2 linked regions of the Homo sapiens genome follow. The protein of the gene in region 1 purifies or fractionates together with the protein of each later gene. This does not show direct contact. Each region holds a gene or a part of one and is shown on either strand. Other genes may lie near its edges. The genes, in order: SHMT1 and DPYSL5.

Region 1 (16,233 bases):
ACGTCAGGTGATCCGCCCACTTCGGCCTCCCAAAGTGCTGAGATTACAAATGTGAGCCACTACGCCGGGCCCGGCCTATTTATTTTTTTTAGAGTTAGGGTCTCACTGTGTTGCTCCAGCTGTAGTGCAGTGGTACAATCAAAGCTCACTGCAATCTCCAACTCCTGGGTTCAAGTGATCCTCCCACCTCAGCCTTCCAAGTAACTAGGACTATAGGTGCAAGCCACTATACTTAGCTCATTTGTAAAATTTTTTGTAGAGCTGAGATCTCACTATGTTGCCTAGCTGGTCTTGAACTCCTGGCCTCAAGCAGTTCTCCCACCTCAGCCTTCCAAATCTCTGAGATTACAGACATGAGCCACTGCATGTAGTTACTTTAAATTTTTTTTTGAGACTGAGTCTTGCTGGGATGCCCAGGCTGGAGTGCAGTGGGGCGATCTCGGCTCACTGCAACCTCCACCTCCTGGGTTCAAGAGATTCTCCTGCCTCAGCCTCCCGAGCAGCTGGGATTACAGTCACCCGCCACCACTCCCGGCTAATTTTTGTATTTTTAGTAGAGACGGGGTTTCACCATATTGGCCAGGCTGGTCTGGAACTCCTGACCTCAGGTGATCTGCCCACCTCGGCCTCCCAAAGTGCTGGGATTACAGGCGTGAGCCACCATGCCCAGCCTAAGCTTGACTACTTTAGGGACCTCATAAAAGTTGAATCATACAGTGCTTGTCTTGTGGTGACTGGTTTGTTTCACTTAGCATAATGTTCTCAGGCTCATCCCTGTTGTATTAATAGCATGTGATAGGATTTCTTTCCTTTTTTTTTTCTTTTTCTTTTCTTTTTTTTTTTTGAGACAGGGTCCAGGCTGGAGTCCAGTGGCGTGATCACAGCTCACTGCAGCCTTTACCTCCTGGGCCAAAGTGAATCTTCCCTTCTCAGCCTCCCAAGTAGCTGGGACTATGGGCACACACCACAACACCTGGCTAATTTTTTGAAATTTTTTGTAGAGATGGGGATATTGCTGTATTGCCCAGGCTGGTCTCGAACTCCTGGGCTCAAGCAATCCTCCTGCCTTGGCTCCTCAAAGTGCTGGGATTATAGGTATAAGCCACCTCTCCCAGCCAAAACCCCCTCTTTTTATAGATGAGATATTTGCTCCAAGTTGCACAGCTGGTTTGGTCTCTTGACTGTAGATTCCAGAGGCATTGGTGGAACACTTGATCATGCTGGCTTCAGCATCTGCATGTTAACAAGCTCTTCTCATTACTTCTCTCCACTTTAGTTTCACTGTCCCACCCCTAAGCTTCTTTGGCCTCTGTGAAGCACAGACTTTCTGGGTCTGAGTGGATCTAAGTCTCCTGCTCTTCTCCCACAGATACTATGGCGGGACTGAGTTTATTGATGAACTGGAGACCCTCTGTCAGAAGCGAGCCCTGCAGGCCTATAAGCTGGACCCACAGTGCTGGGGGGTCAACGTCCAGCCCTACTCAGGTGCTTGTCTCATCCATATGGCCTGGTGCAGCCTCTTCATGTGCATCCCCCAGGGCCGACATGCACCAAGAAGAGTCCTAAGATGGACTGCCATGGACTGCCATAGGCCGGGCCCAGTGGCTCACGCCTGTAATCCCAGCACTTTGGGAGGCGGAGGCAGGCAGACCACCTGAGGCCGGCAGTTCAAGACCAGCCTGACCAACATGGAGAAACCCGGTCTCCACTAAAAATACAAAAATTAGCTGGGTGTAGTGGCACATGCCTGTAATCCCAGCTACTCGGAGCCTGAGGCAGGAGAATTGCTTGAACCTGGGAGGCGGAGGTTGCAGTGAGCTGCCGAGATGGCGCCATTGCATTCCAGCCTGGGCAACAAGAGCGAAACTCCATCTCAAAAAAAAAAAAAAAAAAAACTGCCATAAATAAAAGATAAGTCACGCATCCCTCTGCATTACCCTTGGGCTCCCAGCTCTATACCCCCTCCCAGGCAGTGCCCTCTCTCTGAACTTCACCTCTCAAGGCTGGTGGTGAAGGGGCACCTCCTGGAGCTCAGGGAAGGTACAAGGCCTGTTCTCGCCACTCCTGGGTGAAGGCTTAGTGGCCAAGGTCCCGGATGCCACTTGGTACCTCAGTTAGAAATAATCATGTCTCCTCTGGTCCACTCGTTTCAGGCTCCCCTGCAAACTTTGCTGTGTACACTGCCCTGGTGGAACCCCATGGGCGCATCATGGGCCTGGACCTTCCGGATGGGGGCCACCTGACCCATGGGTTCATGACAGACAAGAAGAAAATCTCTGCCACGTCCATCTTCTTTGAATCTATGCCCTACAAGGTAAGCATGTGTTTCTCTCCTAGCTTTTATTTCCTTGGGAAACCTCTGATGCTTGGCTGTGCCTGCAGGGGTAAGTTTGGTTTATGTGTCACTACAGGAAGTCCCCACCTCGCACCGTTTTTAATTTCCTTGCAGCGGGGACTCCTCAGGTTTTCAGGACCCGCTGGGGCAGCTGGGATGGAGAGACGAGGGTCTGAGCTGAGGCCACAGGGAAACCAGTGAGGGAGGCAACTACTGAGGAGAGTTCAGATGTGGCAGGGGCAGTGGCAACTGCTTGGAATAGCAACCCTGGGGAATAGCAACCAGGTCACTACAGTTGGACCCCAGCAACAGCCACCACCTCTGCAGCTCTGCCCTCGCCTGGTGACATCTCTGCTCGGAGCCCCTGTGGGCCAGCAGCAGCACAAGGATGCAGTAGCTACAGGCATGGCAACGTCCCCAGCTCCAGCACCAAAACCAGCAGCCCGGCACCATCCACAGCCACAGTCCTCCATGGCCACGTTAGGGCTAGCCCCTGCCTGTGTATAGTGGCTACAGAGGAACAGACAGTGGTTTGACTTAGGGCGTTCAACTTTAGGATAGTGCAAAAGTGACATGCGTTATTAGCTGTACTTCAAGCCCCCCATACGACCATTCTGCTTTTCAGTTTCAGTACAGTATTCAGTAGATTACATGAGATAGTCAACACCGTATTATAAAATAAGGTTTGTGTTTGACTATCTTGCCCAGTGGAGGGTACCACAGTGTCCTCAGCATGTTTAAGGTAGGCCAGACTAGGTTGTGATGTTTGGTAGGTTAGGTATATTACATGCATTTTTGACTTTATGATATTTTCAGCTTAATGATGAGCTTATTGGAATGTAACCCCATAAGTTGAGGAGCACCTGTATGGCTCAGGTGTACACCCCATTGCCATTGCCACCCCACTGCACATACCTGATAACGCAGCCAGCCCAGCAGTGGAACCAACACCATCAGAACCAGTGCCAAGTGCTGCCTCTAGGGTGTGCAGGGCCCCAGGCAAATACTTGTTTTTCGTGGGACCCGTCTGTATAAACAGTTGGGTCAAAAAATGCCTGTAAGATGTGTGGGCTTATTCAGGCATGGTGATTTATCTATAAAAACGAAGGATAATGGGAAGAAGAGGTAACTTGCTTTTTCTTTTAGTGTCCAGTGTTGGTGATTCTTTCTAGTGTCCCGGAACCATCTTTTCATGTTCTTTATTAATAAATGTGCCATTCCTGCTTAGTTTCATGTTTGTTACCATGAAAAAAGGTAGCACTGCATCCTTCTGCTTGGCTGGCATTGCATGGTCTTGGGTGCATGCTGTCCATGGTTCTGTGTGTACTCAGCCTTTGTCTCAGTGCTGGTGATTGCACGTGTGCTCTTTTTTGCAGTCATTTCTTTTCACAGAACACCTAGGTGTTTGCAGTCACAGATCTCCTCATTGGCCAAGGCCAGCCTTGAAGCTAGATTTTGAAACATGTCACAATAGTAACAAAATAGTTTGTCTTGGCTGGGCTCGGTGGCTCACACCTGTAATCACAGCACTTTGGGAAGCTGAGGTGGGCAGATCACCTGAGGTCAGGAGTTCGAGACCAGCCTGGCCAACATGTTCAAACCCTGTCTCTACTAAAAATACAAAAAATTCCTCAGGTGTGGTGGTGCACACCCGTAGTTCCAGCTACTCAGGAGGCTGAGGAGGGATAATTGCTTGAACCTGGGAGGCGGAGGTTGCAGTGAGCCAAGATTGCTCCATTGCACTCCAGAGTGGGCGACAAGAGTGAAACTCCATCTCAAAAAAAATAAATAAATAAGAAAGGCAGGGTGCAGTTGCTCACGCTTGTAATCCCAGCACTTTGGGAGGCTGAGGCAGGCGGATCATGAGGTCAGGAGTTCAAGACCAGCCTGGCCAACACAGTGAAACCCCGTCTCTACTAAAAATACATGGTGGTGCACTCCTGTAATCCCAGCACTTTGGGAGGTCGAAGTGGGCGGATCATCCGAGGTCAGGAGTTCGAGACCAGCCTGGCCAACATGGTGAAAGCCTTCTCTACTAAAAATACAGAAATTAACTGGACGTGGTGGCGGGCACCTGTAATCCCAGCTACTCAGGAGGCTGAGGCAGGAGAACCACTTGAACCTGGGAGGCGGAGGTTGCAGTGAGCCAAGATTGCACCAGTGCACTCCAGCCTAGGTGACAGAGCAAGACTCCATCTCCAGAAAAAAAAAGAAAGAATCTGCGTCCCGCACCCAGTTCCCTCCAGCCACCCCCGTCTTTGATGTACATTGTGCAGGCTGCAGTCCTGTGGGTGCAGTGAGGGGACCCACCTCAGGATGGGCATGGAGAGGTGGGGCCTGGGACCCTGGCCAGCTTGGGCAGCAGGAGGTGCAGCTCACCCGCTGTGGGGGTGATTTGAGTCCTGCCCTTGGCGGACAGGAGGAGGAGACAGACCTTATTGGCATTCATCAGCAGCCAGAGGCAGCTCACCTCCACCCCACCGGGCTGCAGAGTTGGAGGTTAGGGGGTGTCCCAGGGCCACTGCCCTGCCCAGCCTTCACCAGACCGCCTGCCTCCACCTTCAGCCCCTGCCCCACTCCACTGCAAGAGCCCCACGCAGGGCCAGGCTAGAGCAACAGCAACATTAACCTTCTATTTTGTGTTTTTGGCCCATCCCCACTGTGACTCGAGAATTCCTCCCTGTCCCTGGTCCTAAGTGACTGCTGGGGTCTCCTTCCTTATCCTCTGTGCACTGTGGACCCCATCTGCAGTTTATTATAAATGCCTATGAATTCTTCTAGGAGTTGTTCTCTTGTCTCATTTTCAAGATTAAAAAAAGAAAAGAAAAACCTTTGAAAAACCCATTAAATTAAAAAGGGAGAAAGCAGCACAGGCTTTTTTTTTTTTTTTTTTTTTTCCGGTAATTGTGGCTACACAAAAAATTTTAGAATTATGTCCATTTTTTTTAAATCTTTTTTTTTTTCCTTTTTGTGGAGAACAAGATCTCACTATGTTGCCCAGGCGGGTCTCAAACTCCTGGACTCAAGCTATCCTACTGCCTCTGTCTCCCTAAGAGCTGGGATTACAGGCGTGAGCCACCATGCCCGGTGAATTACGTCCATTTTTACTGGAGGTCAGCTGTTGATATTTCATTTCATAAAACGGTTTCTTTGCCAAATTCAGGTGACTGAGAAAGAACCACACCCCTGAAGCAAAACACAGCAAACAAAACCACAAATCATCTTTCAGCTTGACTTTCTAGATGAGGTCTTGGTTCCCGAAACCTTGTGGCAAGCTTCTATAGTTGGGTTGGATTATAACTGCCTTTTTTTATTTGGAAAGAGTGACCACCAATCCTGAAACCTTTCACTCCAGATGTGCTGGTAGTTTCTGAGGGGGACACCAAGGTAAGAGGAAGGAAGGTTGGGTCAGGGCCTTCAGAACAGGGAGCCTCTCTGCACATCTCCTCTTCCCTGAGGCTTCTCAGATCCCAGAGCCCAGTTTTTCCTGTGGTGCGCTCTATGCTCTGCTGGTTATGTGTGCTTACCCATGACTTTTTTTTTTTTTTTTTTTTTAAGACAGTATCTGGCTCTGCCTCCCAGGCTGGAGTGCAGTGGCTCTGTCTCGGCTCACTGCAACCTCTGCCTCCTGGGCTCAAGCGATCTTTCCTCTTCAGCCTCCCAAGTAGCTGGGACTAGAGGCGCATGCCACCATGCCTGGCTAATTTTTGTATTTTTTGTGGAGACAAGGTTTTGCCATGTTGCCCAGGCTGGTCTTGAACTCCTGGGCTCAAGTGATCTGTCCAACTCAGCCTCCCAAAGTGCTGGTATTACAGGCATGAGCCACCGCATCCGGCTGACCCCTTTTTTTTTTTTTTTTTTTTTTTGAGACAAAGTTTCCCTCTTGTCGCCCAGGCTGGAGTGCAGTGGCACGATCTCAGCTTACTGCAACCTCTGCCTCCCGGGTTTAAGCGATTCTCCTCCCTCAGCTTCCTGAATCGCTAGGACTGCAGGTGTGTACCACCATGCCTGGCTAATTTTGTGTTTTTAGTAGAGGTGGGGTTTCACCATGTTGGCTAGGCTGGTCTCAAACTCCTGACCTCAGGTGATCTGACCCCCTCGGCCTCCCAAAGTGCTGAGATTACAGATGTGAGCCACCACGCCTGGCTGACCCATATGTTTATAGAAGTTTAATAAAATGAACTTCCTAAGAGATGTGTTGCCAGAAAAGAAAAATTATTTTAAATTTTACATCGAGATCTACAATCTGTTTGGAATTGACTTTTTTTTTTAAACAAATTATATATAATTATGGGATGCACAGTGATGTTATGATTTGTATATACAGTGTGGAACTATTGAATCAAGTTAACTAACATATCCCACTCCTTAAATATTTATTATTTTTCTTCCTGTCTAACTGCAACTTTGTACCCTTTGCTCAGTATCTCTCCATTGTCTGCCACCCTCCAGTGACTGGTAACCACATTCTACCCTGCTTCTGTGAGTTTGATTGTTTTATTTATTTATTTATTTATTCAATTTTAATTTTTTTTTTTTGAGACAGAGTCTCACTTTGTCGCCCAGGCTGGAGTGCAGTGGCACCATCTTGACTCACTGCAACCTCCGCCTCCTGGGTTCAAGTGATTCTCCTGCCTCAGCCTCCCGAATAGCTGGGATTACAGGCATACGCCACCACGCCTGGCTAATTTGTGAATGTTTAGTAGAGACGGGGTTTCACCATGTTGGCCAGGCTGGTCTCAAACTCCTGTCCTCAGGTGGTCCACCTGCCTCGGCCTCCCAAAGTGCTGGAACTGCAGGCATAAGCCACCACGCCCAGCAGTTCGATTGTTTTAGATTTCACATAGAAGTAAGATCACATGGCCAGGTGCGGTGGCTCACACCTATAATCTCAGCACTTTGGGAGGTCGAGGTAGGAGGCTCACTTGAGTCCAGGAGTTCGAGACCAGCCTGGGCAACATGGTGAAACCCCATCTCTACAAAAATATAAGAATTAGCCGGGTGTGGTGGCACTGCCTGTGGTCCCAGCTATTCAGCAGGCTGAGTGGGAGAATCGCTTGAGCCTGGGAGGTAGAGGTTGCAATGAGCCGAGATGGCACCACCGCACTCCAGCCTGGGTGACAGAGTGAGACTCTGTCTCAAAAAAGAAGTGAGATCATGCAGTATTTGTCTGTCTGAGCCTGGCGTATTTCACTTAGCATAAGGTCCTCCAAGTTCATCGGTGTTGTTGCAAATGACAGAATTTCTTTTTTCAGACTGATTATTATTACATTGTTTATATATATATGTGTCACATTTCCTTTGTCCATTCATCTGTTGATGGACATGGCTTTATTCCATAACTTGGCTATTGTGAATAGTGCTGCAGTGAACATGGGAGTGCACATGTCTCTTTGACATACTGATTTCAAGTTCTTAAGATATAGATTCACAAGTGGGATTGCTGAATATGGAATTGATTTGTGTGGGTGAGGCGGGCATCCAGATAACATTTTTGTCCAAATGGATGCCCAGTTGACCTAGTGCCATTGATTGAAAAGGTCATCCTCTCCCCACTGCACTGCAGCGTCACCACTGGCATGGATCCAATGACCTGTGTTGTGTGTGGTTCTGCTTCTGGTTAAGCCAGATGCTCTGCCCTTCCATGAATGCGTGCTGCCTTAATTACTATAATTTGTCAAGCATTTTGTGACACAAAATACACAACGCAATGATGTTTTGTGTAAAGGTTTGGTATGATTTTCCTTTTATGGTTTTTGTTATTTACATTTCATTTTCTATCTTTCTTGCTTTTATATACTTTTTGGCTTTTTTTTTTTTTTTTTTTCAGATGGAGTCTCGCTCTGTTGCCCAGGCTGGAGTGCTGGAGTGCAGTGGCACAATCTCGGCTCACTGCAAGCTCCACCTCCCGGGTTCACGCCATTCTCCTGCCTCAGCCTCCCAAGTAGCTGGGATTACAGGCGCCCGCCACCATATCTGGCTAATTTTTTGCATTTTTAGTAGAGACGGGGTTTCACCGTGTTAGCCAGGATGGTCTCGATCTCCTGACCTCATGATCTGCCCGTCTCAGCCTCCCAAAGTGCTGGGATTACAGGTGTGAGCCACCGCGCCCAGCCCCTACTTCTTGTTTTTCAATGTTGTATCCAGTGACCTTGCTAAATTTGCTTATTCTAACAGTTGGCCCCTAGCATCTTGATTTTCTAGGTATATTGTGTTGTCTGTGTGTAATGTCAGTTTTTAAATTTCTTCTTTCCTAATCGTTATGCCTTTTGTTTCTTTTTCTTGCCTCATTATACTTGGAATAGAAGTAGTATTAGCAGGCATTTTGGTCTTGTTCCTGAAGGTAACCATTTTGGTTTCCATTGTGTGGTCCCGTCACATTTGTTTCATTCTGCAGGTGCTTTTTGGTTCCTTCTCAGCAGGTAGTGCCCCAGCAGCAGGGCTCACTACAACCCTGGGACTCCTCAGGGACTCCTGGGTCTGTGAGCCATACTTGGTTGAGCAGGCTGAACACACCAGTATCCATCCTGTCTCACCCTCAAGTCCTCATCTAGGACATCATTCCTCTTGTCATGGTGGGTGGAGCCAGTTCAAGTGGGAGGACAGGAGGCAGGTGTGGTTGGAGGAAGCAGCCTGAACCTGCCTCCCTGACATTCCACAGGTGAACCCAGATACTGGCTACATCAACTATGACCAGCTGGAGGAGAACGCACGCCTCTTCCACCCGAAGCTGATCATCGCAGGTGATGCGCGGGGCGGAAAGTCACCTTGTTCACCAGTAGCCTGGTGCCTCTTACAGAATGAGGATGGAAAGATGTTCGCACCCTGTTGAGCCCACTGCTAGTTTCTGCCCTGGATAACTGAGTTTCTGGGGTCTACATATATTAGTTTCTTTCAGGATACAGATGTGTGTTTGCTGCTTTTTGTGCTATGTAGATTAAGATGTGAGACTGTTCTCAGAGAAGCATCTAGAAATGTCAGGCCCTGACTGCGCTGGCAATAGTAGTTGGGGCCATCTCAACCACCAAGACGTTGAAGAGTTAGAGTGGTTGCCTTTAGCACAGAGGTGCTTTTTGAGGGCATTCTCCATTTTTGCTCTGAGACTTTAAGGGAAGAAATCTCTGGGCTTTCAGATCTGCACATCTAGAGGCCACTGTGAAGCCAACTCAGCTGGCCGGTGGACATCTCTGATGCAGCTGTGTCACCTTTCCTGTCTCAGGAACCAGCTGCTACTCCCGAAACCTGGAATATGCCCGGCTACGGAAGATTGCAGATGAGAACGGGGCGTATCTCATGGCGGACATGGCTCACATCAGCGGGCTGGTGGCGGCTGGCGTGGTGCCCTCCCCATTTGAACACTGCCATGTGGTGACCACCACCACTCACAAGACCCTGCGAGGCTGCCGAGCTGGCATGATCTTCTACAGGAAAGGTGAGCTCCCGAATGTTGGGTACAGATGGGTACCATGGTTTACATTTCTCCTGTGGGGGTTCAGATTCAGTTGAGGGAGCTGGGAAAAACTCTGACCTGGGATCCTTGGAAAATATTAAGATCCCAGTCCCTTAAAGAGCTGCTTAGGAAGGAGCAGTGACAGGCTTTACAGAAAGGATTCCCGGCCAGGTGAGGTGGCTCGCGCCTGTAATCCCAGCACTTTGGGAGGCCGAAGCGGGCAGATCACGAGGTCAGGAGATCAAGACCATCCTGGCTAACACGGTGAAACCCCGTCTCTACTAAAAACACGAAAAATTAGCCGAGTGTGGTGGTGGGCACCTGTAGTCCCAGCTACTCAGGAGGCGAAGGCAGGAGAATGGCGTGAGCCTGGGAGGTGGAGCTTGCAGTGAGCTGAGATTGTGCCACTGTACTCCAGCCTGGGCGACAGAGCGAGATGCCGTCTCAAAAAAAAAAAAAGAAAGAAAGAAAGGAATCCCCAGAAGGAGACTGTCAGCCACAGCTCCTGCTTCACTTTTGTGCATCCAGGTCCTAGGAACATAGGAGGGGGATCAGCAACCACTATGTGTTAGGATGGCGCCGGTTGCTGAACTCGAGAGGCAGGTGTTTGAATGAAAGGAGGGTGCATGGCTGGCTGGGGGCCACTGGGAGGCCTCACAAGGCTGCATTATTCTGGTGAACTTACAGTGATCCATCATGTTTCTCAAAGAGAAAGACTCATAGTAGTCAAACTAGAAGACATGGATGTATAAACATTAATATCATTTTAGTGAAGGTTTTTCTTTCCATTACCTCATAACCTACCCCTAGGCACTCCCCTTATTTTCGAATTCCCATACCTGGGAAAGCCTGTTAGTGGTCAGGTCATCATTTAGCCTGTGGTGAGACCTGATGCGCCAACTTTGCATCAGCAGAGACACCAGCCCTCTGGTGACTACATTACTCTTTTTTTTTTTTTTTTTTTTTTTTTTTTTTAGTATTTATTGATCATTCTTGGGTGTTTCTCGTGGAGGGGGATTTGGCAGGGTCATAGGACAATAGTGGAGGGAAGGTCAGCAGATAAACAAGTGAACAAGGGTCTCTGGTTTTCCTAGGCAGAGGACCCTGCGGCTTTCCGCAGTGTTTGTGTCCCTGGGTACTTGAGATTAGGGAGTGGTGATGACTCTTAATGAGCATGCCGCCTTCAAGCATCTGTTTAACAAAGCACATCTTGCACCACCCTTAATCCATTTAACCCTGAGTGGACACAGCACATGTTTCAGAGAGCACGGGGTTGGGGGTAAGGTTATAGATTAACAGAAGAATTTTTCTTAGTACAGAACAAAATGGAATCTCCTATGTCTACTTCTTTCTACACAGACACAGCAACAATCTGATTTCTCTATCTTTTCCCCACATTTCCCCCTTTTCTATTCGACAAAACCGCCATCGTCATCATGGCCTGTTCTCAATGAGCTGTTGGGTACACCTCCCAGACGGGGTGGCGGCTGGGCAGAGGGGCTCCTCACTTCCCAGAAGGGGCGGCCGGGCAGAGGGGCTCCTCACTTCCCAGAAGGGGCGGCCGGGCAGAGGCGCCCCCCCACCTCCTGGAAGGGGTGACGGCCAGGCGGGGGCTGCCCCCCACCTCCCTCCCGGACGGGGCGGCTGGCTGGGCGGGGGCTGCCCCCAACCTGCCGGACAGGGCAGCTGCCGGGCAGAGATGCTCCTCACTTCCCAGACGGGGCGACTGCCAGGCGGAGGGGCTCCTCACTTCTCAGATGGGGCAGCCGGGCAGAGACCCTCCTCACCTCCCAGACGGGGTTGCAGCCGGGCAGAGGTGCTCCTCACATCCCAGACGGGGCGGCGGGGCAGAGGCGCTCCCCACATCTCAGATGATGGGCGGCCGGGCAGAGACGCTCCTCACTTCCTAGACGGGATGGCGGCCGGGAAGAGGCGCTCCTCACTTCCCAGACTGGGCAGCCAGGCAGAGGGGCTCCTCACATCCCAGATGATGAGCGGCCAGGCAGAGACGCTCCTCACTTCCCAGACGGGGTGGCGGCCAGGCAGAGGCTGCAATCTCGGCACTTTGGGAGGCCAAGGCAGGCGGCTGGGAGGTGGAGGTTGTAGCGAGCCGAGATCACACCACTGCACTCCAGCCTGGGCAACATTGAGCACTGAGTGAACGAGACTCCGTCTGCAATCCCGGCACCTCGGGAGGCCGAGGCTGGCAGATGACTCGCGGTTAGGAGCTGGAGACCAGCCCGGCCAACACAGCAAAACCCCGTCTCCACCAAAAAAATACGAAAACCAGTCAGGCGTGGCGGCACGTGCCTGCAATCCCAGGCACTCGGCAGGCTGAGGCAGGAGAATCAGGCAGGGAGGTTGCAGTGAGCCGAGATGGCGGCAGTACAGTCCAGCTTCGGCTCGGCATCAGAGGGAGACCGTGGAAAGGGAGAGGGAGACCGTGGGGAGAGGGAGGGGGAGGGGGAGGGAGAGGGAGAGGGCTGTTCGACTACATTACTCTTACCCGAGGCAGGGTCTTCTTGCCCAGCCCCTGGCTGGGACTAGACACAGCCACATGCCCCCTCAGCTTCTCAGCACCCCGTTGCCTCTGTGCTCCTCCAAGGACCGTTTTTAGCTGTGCTGATGTTTCTGAGGCAGGTAGCCATTCCCACCCGCCCAGGAGACATTTGGTTTTTTCCCCCACTGTGTGTTGATGTGATTTATTTCACCCAGTGCTGAGGGACTCCGGAGCCAGCCTATCAGAGCAAGTACTAGCTCTGCCGCACACCCGCTGTATGACTTTAGGGCTAGCTGTGCAGCCTCTCTGTTCCTCATTTCCTCACCTCTAGAGTGGGGACTATAATAATAGTACCTGTCCCTTTGGACTGCTGTTTTGAGGATTAAATGAATTTATGTAAAGTGATTAGAGCAGTTCTTGGCTCACTAGAAGCTCTAGATAGATGTTACCGATTATGACTGAATAGTAGCTATTATTGATGGTTAACTTTTTCTCAGAAAGGAACCTTATTCTTCATATTAGCCACATGAGCGTTGTCTCTTTCAATGCATCTTGGAGACTCTTTAAATTTTATTTTTGGGGACAGGGTCTCACTCTGTCACTCAGGCTGCAGTGCAGTGGTGCAATCAAAGCTCACTGCAACTTCAACTTCCCGGGCCCAAGCAATCCTCCTACCTCACCCTCCCACGTAGCTGGGACCACAGGTATGCGCCACCATGCCTGGCTAATTTTTAAATTTTTCTGTGGACATGGGTTCTCTCTTTGTTGCTCATGCTGGTCTTGAACTCCTGGGTTCAAGTGATCCTCCCACCTCTGCCTCCCAAAGTGCTGGGATTACATGGACTTTTTTTTTCCCCGGAGATGGAGTTTTGCTCTTGTCGCCCAGGCTGGAGTGCAGTGGTGCAATCTCGGCTCGCTACAACCTCCACCTCCCGGGTTCAACGCATTCTCCTGCTTCAGCCTCCTGAGTAGCTGGAATTACAGATGCCCGCCACCATGCCCAGCTAATTTTTGTATTATTAGTAGAGACAGGGTTTCACTATGTTGACCCAGCTGGTCTTGAACTCCTGACCTTAATTGATCCACCTGCCTCAGCCTCCCAAAGTGCTGGGATTACACGCATGAACCACCACGCCCAGCCACATGGACATTTCTTTAAGGAAAGATGTCCAGGGCAAATTCTTGAATTCTTGGTTACAATGTTAGTGGAGGGAAATTTCTGTCCTTTTTTTTTCTTTTTTTCTTTTTGAGACAGAATGTCACTCTGTCACCCAGGCTGGAGTGCACTGGCGCGATCTTGGCTCACTGCAACCTCTGCCTCCCGGGTTCAAGCGATTCTTCTGCCTCAGCCTCCCAAGTAGCTGGGACTACAGGTGCACACCACCACGCCCGGCTAATTTTTGTATTTTTAGTAGAGACGGGGTTTCACCATGTTGGCCAGACTAGTCCCAAACTCCTGACCTCGTGATCCGCCCGCCTTGGCCTCCCAAAGTGCTGGGATTACAGGTGTGAGCCACCGCGTCCAGCCTGTCCTTTCATTTTTAAGGCCTTGTTCTAGTTGTGTTAAGAAGAGATGCCATCAGAGGAGGCAGGTGGACAGGTGAGGTGCTGAAACCAGTATTCCAGCCAGAGTCATCCATGATGTGTTGGTTTCCAAAAAATAAAGATACTGGTCTGCCCTCAGGAGGCAAGGGTCCCCTCTGCTCCGCTGTGTTACAAATCAGTTCTCCATGCCAGGATAAAGGCCAGGCTTGTGCTTGATTCTTCCCTGGCCAGTCTGGGTTTGAGCCTAAAAAGAAAAAGAGGGGACAGCCCCTATGATCCCACTGTGATGTTTTTCTTCCTCCAGGAGTGAAAAGTGTGGATCCCAAGACTGGCAAAGAGATTCTGTACAACCTGGAGTCTCTTATCAATTCTGCTGTGTTCCCTGGCCTGCAGGGAGGTCCCCACAACCACGCCATTGCTGGTAAAACATCATCTGCCTCTGCTCATCCTGTAGCCCCTAATTCCCATCCCACCTGTCCTCCAAAATCGTGTGCCAGGACTTCCACGCTGGGGAAAAAGCTGGAGGGCTGTCTCTGTGCAGGAGATGCTAACACAGAGTAGGGCATGGTTGAGACTGGCCTAAGGTAGGGACAGTAGGGAATGGCATCCACTCCACGTGTACGGCCACCCAGAGGCAAACCTGTGGGTCAGGCCGAGTTTTGTAAAGTACATGGCACCCTCTTAGGGAAGGAATCTGACAGTTAGGAGAGGGCAAAGCACAGGTGAGAGAGATTGGGGTCCAGACCCTGCAGGATGAGTCCCCTTGCCCTTGATGGGCCTGGCCTGTGGCAGTGGAGGACCCTGTGTCTGATCCTCACACCCTGCACCAGTGCCACGCCAGTGACTCCTGAGTCAGATTCCATGCCTGCCCAGCAGGTTCTCATTGACTTGCTCTTTGTCTCTTTGTACAAGTAGCTTAGGACATTTGTGATGACTCAAGAGTTATCCCGCTGCCTTCATGGAACAAGGACATTGGTAGCACTCATTCCCGCTAAGGGGCTCAGGATGAAGGTGTAGCTTCTCAGGAGACGCACAAGCACTTCTAGAGAGGAACCTGGGGACAGCAGCGATTGGGAGATATTAGGCATAAGGGGTGGAAGGAGCTGGGGTCCCGGGTGTGTTCTCATGTTCTCCCATCACACCTACACACTTGGCACCCACAGCTGCTTTAACTCTGGGATGCAGGGATCACCCCATCCCCAGCTGCTCTGGACGCCCTTTCCAGTTGTTTTCACAAGTATTGATTGGAGGCTCTGTGCGGGATGCAGGCCCGTGGGTTCTCCTTATCCTCCATTCTCTGTGTCCCTTGAAGCAGCCCTCAGGATTGAATGTGAGATACCAGATAAGTCTGAATGGTGCAGGGTAGGACGAAGGCTGCACCTCCTACCTGCGCTCTGACCTTAGAGAGCTGCATAATCTGGCATCAGAGCATCGGCTCTTAGGCCTGCTAAGTAATCGTTTTCACACATCAAGATTAAAAAGGATGTAAAATCCATCTTGCTTAACAGCTTTGGTATGGTAATGTTAGCACAGAACTTCCATGCTTAGGGAAAGGTTACCTCAACAGCAGTTCCTCAGAGAGAAGCATATCAGCTGGGCGCGGTGGCTCATGCCTATAATCCCAGCACTTTGGGAGGCTGAGGTGGGTGGGTCACTTGAGCCCAGGAGTTTGAGACCAGCCTGGCCAACATGAAGAAAGCCCGTCTCTTACCAAAAACATAAAAAATTAGCCAGGCGTGGCCAGGCGCAGTGGCTCACGCCTGTAGTCCCAGCACTTTGGGAGGCCGAGATGGACAGATCACTTGAGGTCAGGAGTTCCAGAACAGCCTGGCCAACATACAGTGAAACCCTGTCTCTACTAAAAAATACAAAAATTAGCTGGATGTGGTGGCACGTGCCTGTAGTCCCAGCTACTTGGGAAGCTGAGGCAGGAGAATTGCTTGAACCCGGGAGGCGGAGGTTGCAGTGAGCCGAGATTGCACCACTGCACTCCAGCCTCAGCGACAGAGCGAGACTCCATCTCTCAAAAAAAATTAGCCAGGTGTGGTAGGATGCACCTGTAGTCCCACCTACTCGGGAGACTGAGATGGGAGGATCATCTGAGCCCTGAACATCAAGGCTGCAGTGAACTGTGATCACGCCACTGTACTCCAGCCTGGGCAATGGGAGTGAGACCCTGTCTCAAAAAATATAAAAATAAAAAATTTTTTTAGCTGGGCATGGTGCTCATGCCTGTAATCCCAGCACTTGGGGAGGCCAAGGCAGGCGGATCACTTGAGGTCAGGAGTTCAAGACCAGCCTGGCCAATATAGTGAAACCCTGTCTCTACTAAAAATACCAACAAAAATTAGCTGGACATGGTGGCATGTGCCTGTAGTCCCAGCTGTTCGGGATGCCGAAGCA
Region 2 (16,233 bases), on another chromosome or scaffold:
TTGACTCTGCGGTGCATTTTCCAAATGGTTTTCCTAAGCCTCACCTTGGCTCAGACCAACACTCCTGATTTCCCCCAAAACCTTCCATCTGGGATTTTGGTTTTATTTCCTGTTCTGCTAAGAAGTCTGGGACAAAGGACCTGTGCTTCCTCAGCTCTCCTCTCAGTCTCCTCTGATCACCTCCATCTTTAGCCACCCCTCTCCTGAATGAATGGGAAGAAGGTCCCTCCAGCCTAATAGATGAGAATATGAGCCCTCAGTTTCCTCATCTGAACAATGAGGATAATAATGGCCCCTATTTGGGGGAGAATTAAACTGGGCACAGGAAGTGTTTGATGATGTTAATTATTAGCAATTTTCATCAACACTTGAATGTCTCTTAATCAGCTCTATCTCCATGTGTCTAAAAATTCCCTTCCCCCTAAATTTGATTTTCTCTCTCCTGATGCCATTTTTTCAGTCACCCAAGCATAAAACCTCCCCCGTTATTTATTTTCACCTCCTCGTCTGTCATCAAAGCTTGCTGCTTCTTCCAAGAAACATGAATCACATATGTCTCTTCCAACCCAGGCTCCAGTCAGGTCCATCATCCCAACACTGCCCTTGAGCTTGTACACTACAGCCAGAGTAATGTTGCAAAGTCCAGTGTTCATGTTCTTCCTCTGCCCAGAGCCTGCTTGTGGCTGCACGTGGCTTACAGCAGAGATCAAGTGCATCCCAGCTCCCCCGACAGCCTCCCATCCTGGGCCAGACATGTCCAGGGATGGCAGTGTGGCCTGACTCCTCTCTGCAAATGTGCTCCTAAACTTCACACTCCCTAAACTCCCTCACTACCACCACCTCCACCCACACAAGTTGACAAACTTTGCCGATGTGATGGAATCAGATTAATCAAAGTCCCCACAGTTTGGTCCTAATCAGACCTGCCTCAGCCCGAACCTCAGCCTGTTCTCTGTCTTCCAACTGTGCCCCCGACTTTGCTACACCATTTCCTACCTTGGAGCATCCTGGCCTGGTCAAGTCATGCCTATCCACCACTCACAGCCTTCCTATCCTAACATGACCTTTCCTTCCACTGGGCTGCTTTTGCACTTGCTGCTCTCCATCCGCATCGAGGAATACTATCTCTTGCTGCCTTGTAGTCTCATAGTATTTTGAAGTCATTTCTGTTAAAACTGAACTTTTCTCCTTTCCTGTTTCCCAGCTGGACTCTAAGCTCCTTAAGATGCTTACATTTCTTCTTCTGGAGCATCTGATACACATAATAGAGGGCACATAGTCTGCGCATTAGTGCTACCTACAAATTATGCTTCTTGTTCCTCATGAATATTTACTGGGCTCCTACTATGTGCAGGCACTGGGCTAGGTGCCTTATATGCTGTATGTCATTTAATTCTCATAGTAACTCCATGAGGGAGGTATTACTATCTCCGTTTTACAAATGGAGAAACGGAGCTCAAGGAGATTAAGTAACTTGCTGAAGATCTTACAACTAATAAGTGACGGAGCTGGAATTTAAACGTAGATCTGCCTGCCTGAATGTCTGATTCTTGTCAGGATACTATAGTGAGAGCAAAGTAAGGTCAGGAAGTGGGACCATGCCCTGGATGATGTGGTAAAGGCTGTAGACCCAGAAGGTAGGAGTGGAAAGTAAAAGGAAGTTTAGGAGTGCAATCAATTAAAAATGTGCTATTTAGGGAAAAACCTGTCAGCTTCAGGATGAGCTCAACAGGCTGCAAATTATCAGTCAAGATAAGGCCTGAGGGCTGTTTGTAGCCAGAGGGACAGAGAGTGGGGCCTCGGAGAACAAATCATGCATCTCTCGGATGCCCTGGAAGAGGCTGTTTTCTTAAGAAGTATTTGACAGAAGGTGCTGGGGTTGGGTGTGGGGTTGGGGGGTGGTGCAAAGAGGATGGAGTGGGGGTCAGCATGCAAGCTGCCTGGAAGGGGATCATCAGAGAAAGGGCCAAGTGGTCAGGTGTCCTCAGCAACCCCCCACCCATGTGAATTAGCTGAGTTGACAATGAAGCCCAGTGTAAGGCCTGATCCCCCTACATCAGGCCAGCGCAGGTGATAAGCTGATGGCTGGACTGGCCACATAATTTGCAGGGCCTAGTGCAAAAGGAAAATATGAGACTCCTTGTTTAAAAATTATTAAGAATTTCCAGATGGTGACAGCAGAACATTAAAACAAGCACGGAATGGCCAGGCTCAGTGACTCACGCCTGTAATCCCAGCACTTTGAAAGGCCGAGGCAGACAGATCACCTGAGGTCAGGAGTTCGAGACCAGCCTGGCCAACATGGTGAAATCCCGTCTTTACTAAAAATACAAAAAATAAGCCAGGCATGATGGCACACGCCTGTAGTTCCAGCTACTTGGGAGGCTGGGGCACGAGAATCTCTTGAACCTGGGAGGCGGAGGTTTCAGTAGCTGAGATCATGCCACTGCACTCCAGCCTGGGTGACAGAGCAAGAGTCTGTCTCAAAAAAAAAAAAAAAAAAAAAAAAAAAGCAAGTGCAGAGCCCTTCTAAATGTAGGGCCTTGTGCAGCTGCATGGGCGACATGCCCATGGAGCTGGGTGGGCCTGGACAGTGGGCTTGTGATTTGAATGGGAAAGGTGTTTCCTGCGTGCCAGGCATGGTTCCAGGTACCATACATGCATCACCTCACTTGATGAAATGCTTGGACCCTTTTTGGGGGTTGTTCACATCCCATGGTGATGTTCAGAGCTTGCTTTCCAGAGGGCCAATAAGTAGCCAACAGAACGCTGAAGGTGAAGGAGGTTACCATGAGCAATAGAGAAACTACCGAGCTGGTTATTTTTTTTTTTTCCTCTGGTACTTCGGGAGGATGTGAATAAAAGATGGAAGATAATTTTAATGTGAAAAGAAAAGGAAGTGGTTCAGCAATCCCAAGAGAGGCAGATCCATCCGAACAAATGATAGCTTTTCCAGCAGCATTAAGAGCTGCAGACATGTTTGCACTGTGCTTACCAGTTTACAGAGCACATCCACTCGTCATTTGATTCTTAGTGCAGTATTGTTCCCTCTATAAAGATTCAGTTGGCCTTAATCTATATACATACCAGTAATAGTAGATCCTGCTTTTCTGATTCCAGTCACCTCCTCAAACATACACCCCTTTTCCATGCATATTTTCGTATGAAGATATGCTCTAGGAAGTCTCTCCCCTTCCTCAATGAAAAATTCCATGAATTGGCTGTAGCCCAAGTGCCTTCTCAATAGCAGAGCGCAAAGTTTGTGCCTTGACCAGGTTCTTGGCCTTGAAGCAAGAGAACCAAATCTTGTGGGCAGGGTTGCTGGGGAGCAATTGCTACAGGAAATTCAGCAAAACATATTGGAGCGGCAGGGCAGTCCTGTAGAAGATGGTAAGAGAGTGAATCTTCAAAGGTCTTTGTCCTGATAAAGCTGGAAGTGACCAACGCATTGTTCTCTCCAATGCCGTGATGTCAGCAAATAAATCTTATCTGAAGGGCCACAAGTATCTGAAATGTCTTTCCAACTTGCTGAGCAGGACCCTGGTCAATATGGAGACCCCCATGAGCCCCACGGTGGTCTGATGAACTTCTGAAGTATAAAGATGGTGTTTATAAAAGGTTTAGACTGAGTTCTAGTACAGGTTCCTGCGCCTTGCCAAGTGTATGCCTGGAAACTGTGTCATAAAATGGATTACCATTAAATATACTGAGTTTTCTTAGGGAACAAATGAGCATCAAATAAATCCAGCTTTACCCAGTAGTATGTTATAAATGTCAAAAACAAAATAATAGCGACACTTTGAAATTGTAAAATGATGTTTCATATTCTTCCAAATAATATACAATGGTGCAGTGTCTGTTGGTTAAACAAATGATCCTAATGTCTCTGTTAATTTAATAGTGAGAGATGTCAGGATAAAAACAAATTTCCACCTATACAATGGGAAATGCTTGGCTGGACAGATTTTTTTAAACATTTATATTTTTAAAAATAAGGGCTTGGGTTGATAAATGGGCACTTTTGGTCAGCCACCAGGCTCAAGGAGGCTGTTGTGAGATCGGCTGTTCCATGATCAGGTCTGGAATAGTTGGAGATGAGGATGTTCTACAAAGCTGCAATTCTGCTTCCTGGCAGTGTCCACCTAGAATGAGGTCTCTGCTCATATGCGTTCAAGAATGCTCAAGCACTGTGTGAAGTTGTAAATGTCCATGAACTTGGAAATGCATTCATACATGGAGGCATGTTTATACAATGAATCAATTAAAAGGAATGAAATAAATCTACATAAATAAATCTTAAAGATAATATTGAGTACATGAAAGCAAGTTGCAAAAGAATATAGACAGTATGATAGATATTATTTGTATAATTTTTTTAATTGTATAAATTTTGTATAAATTTTTAAATGTTATGTGTTTACATAGTAAAAGCATAAAAACATAGATGAGAGGAATGTATGCCATCTTCAGGGAAGAGAGGGATGGGAATAGGATGGAGGGCTTTAGTTGTATCAGAAATATTTCATTTCTTTTTTTTTAAAAAAAAGCATCTGAGGTAAACATGGCAAAAATGTTAACATCTGTTAAGTTTGAGTAGTGGAAATATGGGTATATGTTTTATTATTTTCTGTATTTTACTCTGTTTGAAATATTTCATAACTTTAAAATATTTTAAACACATTAAGAATGGCTAAAATTTTAAATACTGCAGTTTTAACTTCCTCCAAATTTATTCTGAAGTGTACATTATAAAACTCATATATTCTGTTAAATTTTGGAGAAGTAGAAAAAATAAATTCCTCAGAATCTCATCACTCAAAAATAACCATTGTTGGCCAGGCGTGGTGGCTCACGTCGATAACCGCAGCATTTTGGGAGACTGAGGCATGCAGATCACTTGAGGTCAAGAGGTCAAGACCAGTCTGGCCAACATGGTGAAACACCATCTGTACTGAAAATACAAAATTAACCGGGCATTATGGCAGGTGCCTGTAATCTCAGCTACTCAGGAGGCTGAGGCAGGAGAATCACTTGAACTCGGGAGGCGGAGGTTGCAGTGAGCCAAGATTGCACCACTGCACTCCAGCCTGGGCCACAGAGCAAGACTGTGTCTCAAACAAACAAACCATTGTTAATATTTTGGTCTATTTCCTTGCATTTTTATTTCTTGTGTGGGGAGTATGTGTGTTTAAACATGGTTCCAAGCATTTTGAATCAAGTCTTTTTCACTCATTACAGTATAAAACTTTTTCCGTGTTTTGACAGCCTTCGTGAACATCATTTTTTTAAATATAAAGTTTCACATTTAATTTGGTCATGAATTCATAAATACATAAGTATTTTGTACACCATGTGCTTCCTTGTATTGTTTGTATTATAACACATTTTAAATAGGGACCTTTGACAGGGCAGAAGCATGAAAGGACACCAACCACGAGCAACACACTATACTATGGCTGTCCTGTGTCACATGCTATTTGGCCCGGGGATATAGCAAAACCTAACGTAACTAAACAAAAAAAACCCCAATTATTTCATGTTGTCAGGAAGCTTACCTTAAAAGAATAGCTCGGCCTGGCGTGGTGGCTCACGCCTGTAATCCCAGCACTTTGGGAGGTCGAGGTGGATCACCTGAGGTCAGGAGTTCGAGACCAGCCTGACCAACATGGTGAAACCCCGTCTCTAGTGAACATCATTTTTATTGGCTTCCATTAAAGATCTTCTGCAGCGTACTTAACCAACACCATTTTTTGTGTAAAAAGTCATGAGCATTCAGCAATCACATGTTCTTAAACATCATCCTTTTGAAAGCCTCGGGAACACAATTGGGCTGTGCCTTGCTGCCGATTTCTACAAGGCTGTTTTGTGGGGGATGACACTAAAAAGGTCTGTCACATCTGTGATACCACTTTCCTGTGAAAACAGAGCTTGTCAGCATTCATCCTGTGGGTTGGAATGGTACATATTCAAAAAGCCAACTCTATGTATGTCTTGCCTAAGAGGAAACAAGTGCTTGAACATCAGTGTGTGGTGTGGGCTTGCGAGCCTGCAGCTGGGGGAGAGTTTGCTGATCCAGTGAAACTCTTGTTTCGAGGCCTTGGGGTAACAGCGGTAATAATTATTCCAGATACTTATGTGCATGCCCCTCCCAGCTCATAGATGCTCTCACATCCATTGCCACCTGACCCTCTGGGGACCCCTGAGAAGTAAGGTGCAGGTCAGGGGGCACGTGGCTGCTCCTAGATTACAACCAACACGTGGGAAAGTCAAGACCACCTCCTATGCTTCCAACTCCTTCCTGAACTATTTTCAGTTCCTGTCCTTAGACCCAGGCAAAAGGGGCCTCTTCCCAGGGCTCTGGACTTTAGGGTCCTCTTCGGGCCCTCCAACAACTTGTACCCCTGCCCCATAGGTCTGGGGATTGTGTCTACCCAGACCCCACTCACCCATTCCTAAACTACACTCTGGGTCCCTAGAATTCCCTGAGAAACAGCCCTGAGCATTCCAGAGCCTACAAAACCCCGAATCTCTCCTCCTGGGGGACAGACCACCAATGTGTGCATACCAGGCTCAAGGACAGCATTTTTGCAGAAGGTGGACAGAGCTTAGGTCTGCAGGCTGCAGGATCAATTCAGGATAGGCGCGTGTGGGCTGGGGGCAGGCACAGAGGCTGAGGCCAACTATCCCTGAAGTGTAGCTCAGAATTTTAAGGAACTTGAGGATTCTAAGGGCCAGGCCCTTTTGGCCTTTATGAAGATGTATTTGACAGAGTAGGAGGATAGAGTATATTCTGTGTAATGGTTTTTTAGCTTGATCTAACTTTTGAGTGTTTAGAGAATCAGCACATGATCCTCCTTTTCTCCTCTTGCCCTGGGACCCACAGTATGAGGACTGGTCCTGGCTCTTTTATCTCACTGTGCTGTTTCCAGGTTCCTCTTTTCCTATCCAAGCCTGCAGAGGTACTGTGGGAGTGCAAAGGAAAGCAATCTAGAGCCACAGAAAAATGAAACAATTTAGTGTGTAAAGCTCAATATACACCCCCACGTGCACATGTAAAAGCAAGAGATGCATTTCAGGACAAAATAGAGTACAACCACCTGCTGTGAGGATGAATCAGCCTGGCACGATCCAGCAAAATCGGAAATAGAAGCCTGCTAGTAAAGCTACAATCTGCACTGCTCTCCTTCTCCCGGTTCCTCTGCCGCCCCCATCACAGCTCCTGCAGGTGCCACAGAACTACCACCCTCTGTTGGTTGCTTTAAGCTGTGCAAGCAGTCAAACCACTGAGTTCCCCAGGACGACTGGGAACATTCTCGCTGGCCCAGCCTGCGTCATGGAACATCAAGGTTGTGAGAGTTTTCATTTTAATTGCTGTTGGGCCACTGAGCTAATTTTTTTTCAGTCCCTTATTCCCCAGCAATATTTTTCATTTGTGATCAAGGATTTAACTGAATAGAGAAGCATGAAACCATTAAGACAATTTCATGGAGCTCTTTTTCTCCCCTACAGAAAACAGATAAACACCTAAATTCTGGCTGGGTGCAGTGGTTCATGCCTGCAGTCCCAGCACTTTGCGAGGCCAAGGTGGGAGGATCACTTGAGCCCAGGAGTTTGAGGCTGCAGTGTGCTATGATTGCACCACTGTACTCCAGCCTGGGCAACAGAGTGAGACCCAGTCTCAAACAAAAACAAAAACCTAAGTTCTGAGTAACTAAACACACATGTTAGGACAACACTTTTACCACATCTGTTCCATAAGCAATGTTTTACTTAACCTTCACAACTACCCAACAAGGAAGCCACCCTATTGTGTAGGTAAAGACTTTGCATCCAGAGAAGTTAAGTAACCTGGCAGAGGTTATTCCAACCATGAGGGAGCAGAGCAGGGACTTGAACGTGGAGCCGTGAAGCACTGTAAGGACTCAAACCATTTCTCACCAGAAAAAGAGTCACTTTGTCTTAGAGCCCTCACAAAGACTCTCATGTTATGGGACTCTCAATTATTTAATTTAATTAATTTATTTATTTTGAGACAGTTTCACCCTTGTTGCCCAGGCTGGAGTGCAATGCCGCATTCTTGGCTCACTGCGACCTCCACCTCCCAGGTTCAAGCAATTCTCCTGCCTCAGCCTCCCAAGTAGTTGTGATTACAGGCACCCACCATCACACCCAGCTAATTTCTGTATTTTTGTAGAGACGGGGCTTCACCATGTTGGCCAGGCTCATCTTGAACTCTTGACCTCAAGTGATCCACCCACCTCAGCCTCCCAAAGTACTAGGATTACAGGTGTGAGCCACTGCACCCACTCTCACTTATTTTAATTCTATTTTAAGTTTTGTTTGGGAACAACACATTAGCCTGAAATAGCCTTTGATCGATGCTAGTTTTGGAACTTCACAGAAGTCCCCTGATGAAATTCACTTTTAAAAAGTTGAGTGGGGGAATCTCTAATACAGATTTAGTCATTTTTCCTGGGGGTTCACTCTATGATTGCGAGTGAGGCTTTTTAACAATTTCTTTTTAAAGTGGTATCTTGCGGAGTTGTGAATAGGATCCGTTTTCACTGATAAATCACACATGCATCTAAAAAATGCCTGTCTCAAACAAGATAGATGAAAATGAAGCCCCTATGCTTAGAAAAACTGAAGACAAAGACCCTGAGGTTGAAGATGCGTGCAAAATGTTTGAACAAAATTGCTTCATGAAATTTGAGAGCATAAAACAAAACAATATATCCAAATTAACATTTTCTATATCGTGGTTCAAATATACGTGTGTAACTAAGTAAATGATATAAACAGACATTTGATTATGCCATCAATATTATGTTATTATATGATACAACACTATATTATGTTATATATTACATGCAGACATTTGATCATGTTATCTATAGAGTCAATTGGCTAAAAATCGTTTGGGGAGAGAATCTCCTCATTGGGAAGATAGGCCTTAGGTCGGGTGACCCACGATGTGGTTTTTCCAGCGCGCCAAGCTGAAACCCTGGCGGAGGAAGAAGCAGGTTTGGGGACCCGTGGTCATGATGAAGGTCGCGCTGGCTCTCGCACCTCCACATGGCTCTTTACAGTTTCCCAAACCTCGCTGCCCTTGGTCCTCACAGCCTCTTGTGAGGCAGGGCCTGTCTTTGAATGGACCATGAGGACCATGTCTCACCACATCATTGACTCGGGGGCAGGCAGGGCTGTGACGAGACTGCCTTTTCCCGTCTTCCCAGGCAGCACTCGTCGGAGGCACCACCATGATCATCGGCCACGTCCTGCCCGACAAGGAGACCTCCCTTGTGGACGCTTATGAGAAGTGCCGAGGTCTGGCCGACCCCAAGGTCTGCTGTGATTACGCCCTCCACGTGGGGATCACCTGGTGGGCACCCAAGGTAACAGTGCTGGTGGGATCCCAGAAGAAGGCACAAGTGGTCTTGTAGGCAGAGGGGCTGGTTGGGGTGCAGTGCCTCCTGCTTGTGTGGGGCACCCCTCCCACTACCATCCTAGCTCCCCACAATGCCAAAAGAAAACACACTTGGGATTCCATAAGGGGAGCGGATGGGCTTGTGCTGCTTAACTTAATGAGCCATTTTCCGGCAGGCACAGAGAGGCCAAGGCCAGAGCCCAGGCCTTGGGGATGCAGTTTCATTGCTCTGACCATGAGGCTCTTACCGTCTCGTGTGAATGTAGGGCACCACTGACAGGTCATGGGCAGTGCTGCTGAGAAGAGGCCTGAGCAGGGCTCAGGTGCAGAGGGTCATATCCCATATCCTATGTGTACTGAGAGTCCACCACACTGCGCTGAGGTCTCCGAACTGAGGCTCCCATCCTGCCTCAGTACTGTCTGGAATGAAAGGAATGTGGTATGCTTTTTTCCTACTGGGGGCCCAGCTTCTGCTCTGAGAAGCATCGAGGCTGTCCTGGTCTGTGACTGAGGCTGGCACCCCCTGAGCCTTTCTCAGTTCAGCCTCTGTGCCTCCTTTGTGTCTGTGCCCCTGGCCTCTGGCTTTCCTGTCCTCCCCCTGCCCAGGCCCCAGGGTCAGAGTCCAGACTCCTCTCCCCGGATTCCCACTTCCTTGCTCTTCCTAATCTACAGGCATTTCGATTTGGCTTTGTTTCTGGGGTTTTTCTGCTTTTTTGCCCAGGGTAGCAGTCTGGATATTCATTCTTTCATCAATTATTTATTAAGCCCCATGTACCAGTACTTTGGTGGGTGCCCCAGAATCATAAAAATAATAAGCATTATTAGTTTTACCAACTCAGGAACTGCCTCTTCATTTTCCGTCAAAAACCCACTTGTAACTGCTGCTAATCAGAGTGTATATTCAGGGCAGCTTGAATCTGTGCTCCCAGGTGGACATCCTCAAGCTTTGAGCTCGAATAAACTCTGTTCTTAATCATAAAAAGAAAAAAGAAGTTTTATGAAGTTCTTCAGTTGCAGGCCCTGGTATAAAGGGCCTAACACCCTTCTCAGATGATAACCTAAAGCCTCACTATATTTCTGCCCTCGGGTCTTAGCCTTGAGCTGGGGGCTCACCCGGTTTCTTCATTATTTCTGACCTGGCACTTATAGAAGACCTCCTCCCGGTTCTGGGCCAGAGGTGCAGATCACGCTGAATGTCAGCCATTCCTTATCTCAAATGGGGGTCTCCTTTTTGGACACTCTCCTGGGTGAGAGGCCTCTACCTCTGAGCCACTCTCTACTTCCCCTGGAGCTGGCCTAGAATAGAGGGTCTTCTCAGGTTCCCAGCAGCACAGAAGCCAGGCCAACCCTCCCTAATTTCCTGGAGCTTATGGTGACTTTCATGCATCAGGAATTTAAAATTCTGTTTTATAATAATCAAATAAATGTTTCTAATTATAGATGTGAAAAATAGAAAAGAAAGGAAGTACATAATCCAGTAACCCCCAGCACCATCCCTGCTGTTAAACTTCTTTCTTTCCCATCTTTTTTCATCCATGCTTTCACAGAGTAGCTATTTTGCATAGGTGTGAGCATTTTCTATTTTGCCATGAAGTTCATGAACCAGCAATATAATGGCCACTTAATATTCTACCAAGTGGATGAACCTGAACTTATTTTCCTGTTATCAGGCCAATGTTGCTTCCATGTTTTTCCTAGTACAAATAATGTTAGGAATATCCTAACTCTCATAACTTTGTTCATGTTTAGCTTTGTTCCTAAATTTGGTTTTCCCAGGACCTCTGGATTTTTAGCATTAGTATGCCTTCTTTGTAATGCCAGGCAACAGCCCACAGAAATTAAAATCATTATTCCTATGTTTACCATTAAGGCTGGTTTGGAGACAGACATAGGGGACAGGCCTAAGTGATAGGAGAAACGTGCCTATAAGGTAACAATGTGGCTCCTAAACTGTGTCGTGTTGACAATTTTCACAGTACTTCCGCATCCATCTACTCAGGTGGCCTCACAGCAGCCTGTGGGGTGGGAGGAAAGTGAGATAGAGAGGTGTGGGGGGTCAACCGACAGACTGAGCTGGGGCAGGCCCCACATCTCCCCCATGCTGGGCCGGTGCCTGCCAGTCGGCCTCTTGGGTGTCTGCCCTCACGCAGCATTGCCCTTCTACTTGTTCTCCAGGTGAAAGCAGAAATGGAGACACTGGTGAGGGAGAAGGGTGTCAACTCGTTCCAGATGTTCATGACCTACAAGGACCTGTACATGCTTCGAGACAGTGAGCTGTACCAAGTGTTGCACGCTTGCAAGGACATTGGGGCAATCGCCCGCGTCCATGCTGAAAATGGGGAGCTTGTGGCCGAGGCAAGTCTGCAGCCAAGAATATTGGATGGAGGGACACCAGTGGAGACAGTTAGTTCTCAGGGGATTCCTGACCACCCGTCACTGATCCCACAGGATTCAGACAAAATCAGTTGTTAAAGTGTGAGGTGTGGACACCCCAGCTGTCAGATCTTGGTCAGAAAATCCAAACTTTACTACTGTCTGTAAAAAACAAATCTCTTTTTATGGTTCAAAAAGGCTTCTAAGTCGTAGGTGATGATGTCTTAATTCTAATGATATGAGATTTAAATTCCATTATAGCAGAGAATTTGGAGCACCTCTCAGACATATTTTTAATGAGATTTGATATACAGAATAAATAAGAATCCGCTTCCCATTTGGCCTCTTCAGAGGATCTGAGACATTAAAGAGATCTATTCATGGCACCAGGAAGGATAAGCCTCTGGTGCATTCTCCTAGGTCTTGGGGTAAGGGCTAGCCTAGCAGTTGCTGGAAGCTAGAGCTTAGTCTCGATTTCCAGAGAGGGAATTCTGAGTTTGAAATCAGTAAAGAGTGCTTGTCTTTGGTGTCCCAGGCCTGTTGCTAGTTATAATACTTAACTGTATTTTTAAGAGAACAAGATATGTTCAGTCATTATGAAGTGAGAATCAGGAGAGCCCCACTGCATGGGCGGCCTGTGCATGCTCTGCCTTCTTTAGAAGACGAACACTGCAGAAGTGAGAAAAGAAGCAAGCCTATTGAAACAGGCGGTGTCTAGCATATTTCACTGTCCCTTGGGTTCAGTATTTTCTTACACGGTGTCTCTGTGATTCTCTCCATTTTCTTTCTCTTGCTGTTATCCAGGGTGCTAAGGAGGCACTGGATTTGGGGATCACAGGCCCAGAAGGAATCGAGATCAGCCGTCCAGAGGAGGTGAGAAACACTTCCTGTAGCCTTTGTCAGCGTCTCTCATGTAGATTGACAGAATCTTCCAGGATGGAGGAGACATCAAACATACAAATTAGCCAGGCACAAGGGCTCATGTCTGTAATCCCAACATTTGGGAGGCTGAGGTGGGTGGATGGCTTGAACCCAGGAATTTAAGACCAGCCTGGGCAACATGGTGAAACTCCGTCTCTACTAAAAATACAAAAAAAATTAGCTGGGCATAGTGGTGCATGCCTGTAGTCCCAGCTAACTACTTGGGAGGCTGAGGCAGGAGGATCACCTGAGCCCAGGAGGTTGAGGCTGCAGTGAGCCGTGATGATGCCACTGCAATCCAGCCAAGGTGATAGAGTATATATATATATATATACACACACACACATACATATATATACGCACACACACGCACACACATACGTGTGTGCGTGTGTGTGTGTGTGTATAGCATCATTTTCTCCACGGGTGAAATTTCCATTTGATTCTGATTTCAAGGATCTAGGGGAGACAATGTCAGCACACCTGGGGTTGCTGTGCCCAAAACTGAATCAAGAGACAAAAGACAGACTGAAAAGGCCTTCAGGTGTTAGAAGAAATTTCAAACTATAAACTCTGCCTTTGGGGGATGACATTCCTTTGAGCATCTGAGGAATACTTTGGACCAGGGGTCACCAACCCCCAGGTCATGAACCGGTACAGGACCGCAGAGCAGGAGGTGAGCAGCGGGCCAGCTGAGAGCCCCCTGGGCTCCACCTCCTGTCTGATCAGTGGTGGCCTTAGATTCTCATAGAAGTGTGAAGCCTATTGTGAACTGCACATGCGAGGGATCTAGGTTGCACGCTCCTTATGAGAATCTAACTAATGCCTGATGATCTGAGGTGGAACAGTTTCTTTCTTTATTTTATTTTATTTATTTTGAGATGGAGTCTCGCTCTTGTTGCCCAGGCTGTAGTGCAATGGCGCAATCTCGGCTCACTGCAACCTCTGCATCCCGGGTTCAAGCCATTCTCCTGCCTCAGCCTCCCAAGTAGTTGGAATTACAGGCATGCACCGCCACACCCAGCTAATTTTGTATGTTTAGTAGAGACGGGGTTTCACCATGCTGGTCAGGCTGGTTTCGAACTCCTGACCTCAAGTGATCCACCCACCTCAGCCTCCCAAAGTGCTGGGATTACAGGCGTGAGCCACCGTGCCCAGTCCTGAGGTGGAACAGTTTCATCCTGAAACCATCCCTCCCCATTTCCCACCACCACTGCCCCATCCCTGTCCTGGTCTGTGGAAAAATCGTGTTCCACGAAACCGGTCCCTGGTGCCAAAATGGTTGGGGACTGCCGCTTTGGACCCTTTCCACCAAAAACAGGAGACACATACAAGTCTATGCTCCTCCCCCTCATTACCTGCTGAGATGGTCATTCAAAGCTGTTTTCCGCCTGCCCTCTGGCTTTATCCCTGTGCACAGTTTTGCATGGCATTGACACAAATCCCCTACAGTCCCCCTGCTAAAGAATTCTGCTCTAGAGGGACCACATTAGACGAATAACGCATTCCTGCCCTATTACCCTGTTTACACATTCTCTACTGTTTTAGAAGAGGGGGAGAAACTTCTCATTTCTTCAAAGCCTAAAAATGCAGATGGGTGGTTGGTTATCCATGAGGGATTGAGGGGGAGGCCTCGAGGGACAAGGAGCAGGACACAGGATGTGGTGGCACTGCCATTACCCAGAAACCAAGTTGGCCCACGAGTGGGTCCGCTGAGGAGTGCCCCCTCACTGCCCTGATCAGTGCCTGTGTTTCAGAGCCCTTGAATATAGGTCCTGTTTGGCACTTCTGAATTGGTAGAGAAACACACACCAGATTCGACTGAAACACAGAGGGTATGCCTGTGAGAACAGGAGAGAGCAAGGGGTGGACACACACACTAGACTTTCTTTGTTACTTAATACAAGGGAAAGAGCAAGGCTTTGGCTGTGGTCGTAATACCAATAATTATCACCGCCATTATCTATTGGTTAAAGGTGGGAGGGCCCTGGGTCTATGCCAGGGGAGATGTTGCTCCCCAGGGGAAATTTGACAATATCTAGAGATATTTTTGCTTGTCCCAACCTGGGGGGCAGGGCGGATGCTACAGGCATCTAGCGAGCAGAAGCCAGTGATACTGCTAAACATCCCACAATGCGCAGACACCCCCACCATAAAGAATTACGCAACTCGGCTGGGTGCAGTGGCTCACACCTGTAATCCCAGCACTGGGAGGCTGCGGCAGGAGGATTGCTTGAGCCCAGGAGTTTATGACCAGCCTGGGCAATAAAGGGAGACCCCCTCCATCTCTGCAAAAACTTTTTAAAAATTAGCCAAGCATGGGCCGGGCATGGTGGCTCACACCTGTAATCCCAGCACTTTGGGAGGCCAAGGCAGGCAGATCACGAGGTCAGGAGATCGAGACCATCCTGGCTAACATGGTGAAATCCTGTCTCTACTAAAAATACAAAAAATTAGTCGGGCATGGTGGTGGGCGCCTGTAGTCCCAGCTACGCGGGAGGCTGGGGCAGGAGAATGGTGTGAACCCAGGAGGCGGAGCTTGCAGTGAGCCAAGATTGCGCCACTGCACTCCAGCCTGGGCGACAGAGCAAGACTCCGTCTGGGAAAAAAAAAAAAAATTAGCCAAGCATGGTAGCGCATGCCTGTAGTCCCAGCTGCTCAGGAGTCTGAGGTGGGAGGATCGCTTGAGCCCTAGAGGTGGAGGCTGCAGTGGGCCATGATCATGCCACTGCACTCCAGCCTGGGAGACAGAGTGAGACCCTATCTAAAAAAAAAAAAAAAATATATATATATATATATGTGTGTGTGTGTGTGTGTGTGTGTGTGTGTGTGTATATATATATATATATATATATATATGAATTATACAACTCAAATGCCAATAGTACCATGCGCAGAAACCCTAATCTAGGCTAATTTCCGGAGTCAAATCAGCCACTATTTCTCCTTTGCTGCAGTTCTGAGGTGGCTATGGAGAGAATACACCAGAAAACAAGGAGAGACATGACCTTGGGTTTTTATTTACTTTTGTTTCCTTGCCTTTTAATTAAGCCCCAAGTAGCATCCAGCAAGGGCGTGCCTGGTATTGTAAGACCTAGAATTCTCCCTCACTGTGAGCCAAGGTAGTTGGAGGTTAGTGCCTCTGCCCGGGCTTTGCCCCGAGCCAACCCCTATGGGTGCAGTTGCTCCATGAAGGGGAGAGTATGGTGTGGGTATCCTTGGAGGAGATGGTGAAGTTTGGTTTCCTCCTGTCCTTTGTTTCTAACAGCTGGAAGCTGAAGCCACTCATCGTGTTATCACCATTGCAAACAGGGTAAGTCCCCCGATGTCCACTGTGGGATTAGAAACCAACCTTGGCCAGGCACGGTGCTGATGTCTGTAATCCCAGCACTTTGGGAGGCCGAGGTGCGTGGATCACCTGAGGTTAAGAGTTTGAGACCAGCCTGGCCAACATGGTGAAACCCCATTGCTACTAAAAATACAAAAATTAGCTGGGCGTGGTGGCGTGCACC

Evidence for each region.
Region 2: the proteins of SHMT1 (region 1) and DPYSL5 purify together in Homo sapiens (affinity purification with mass spectrometry; 2 studies listed by BioGRID and IntAct, with this or other methods). This does not show direct contact.

What each region holds. Positions count from the first base shown.
Region 1 is NC_000017.11:18,333,577-18,349,809, reverse strand, and holds part of SHMT1 (serine hydroxymethyltransferase, cytosolic), read left to right. Parts: intron 1-1,369; coding exon 1,370-1,485; intron 1,486-2,153; coding exon 2,154-2,314; intron 2,315-8,923; exon of another isoform or gene 8,924-8,996; coding exon 8,997-9,078; intron 9,079-9,554; coding exon 9,555-9,767; intron 9,768-14,134; coding exon 14,135-14,251; intron 14,252-16,233. UniProt on the Homo sapiens protein: Interconversion of serine and glycine.
Region 2 is NC_000002.12:26,915,651-26,931,883, forward strand, and holds part of DPYSL5 (dihydropyrimidinase-related protein 5), read left to right. Parts: intron 1-9,236; coding exon 9,237-9,395; intron 9,396-11,602; coding exon 11,603-11,782; intron 11,783-12,604; coding exon 12,605-12,673; intron 12,674-15,989; coding exon 15,990-16,034; intron 16,035-16,233. UniProt on the Homo sapiens protein: Involved in the negative regulation of dendrite outgrowth.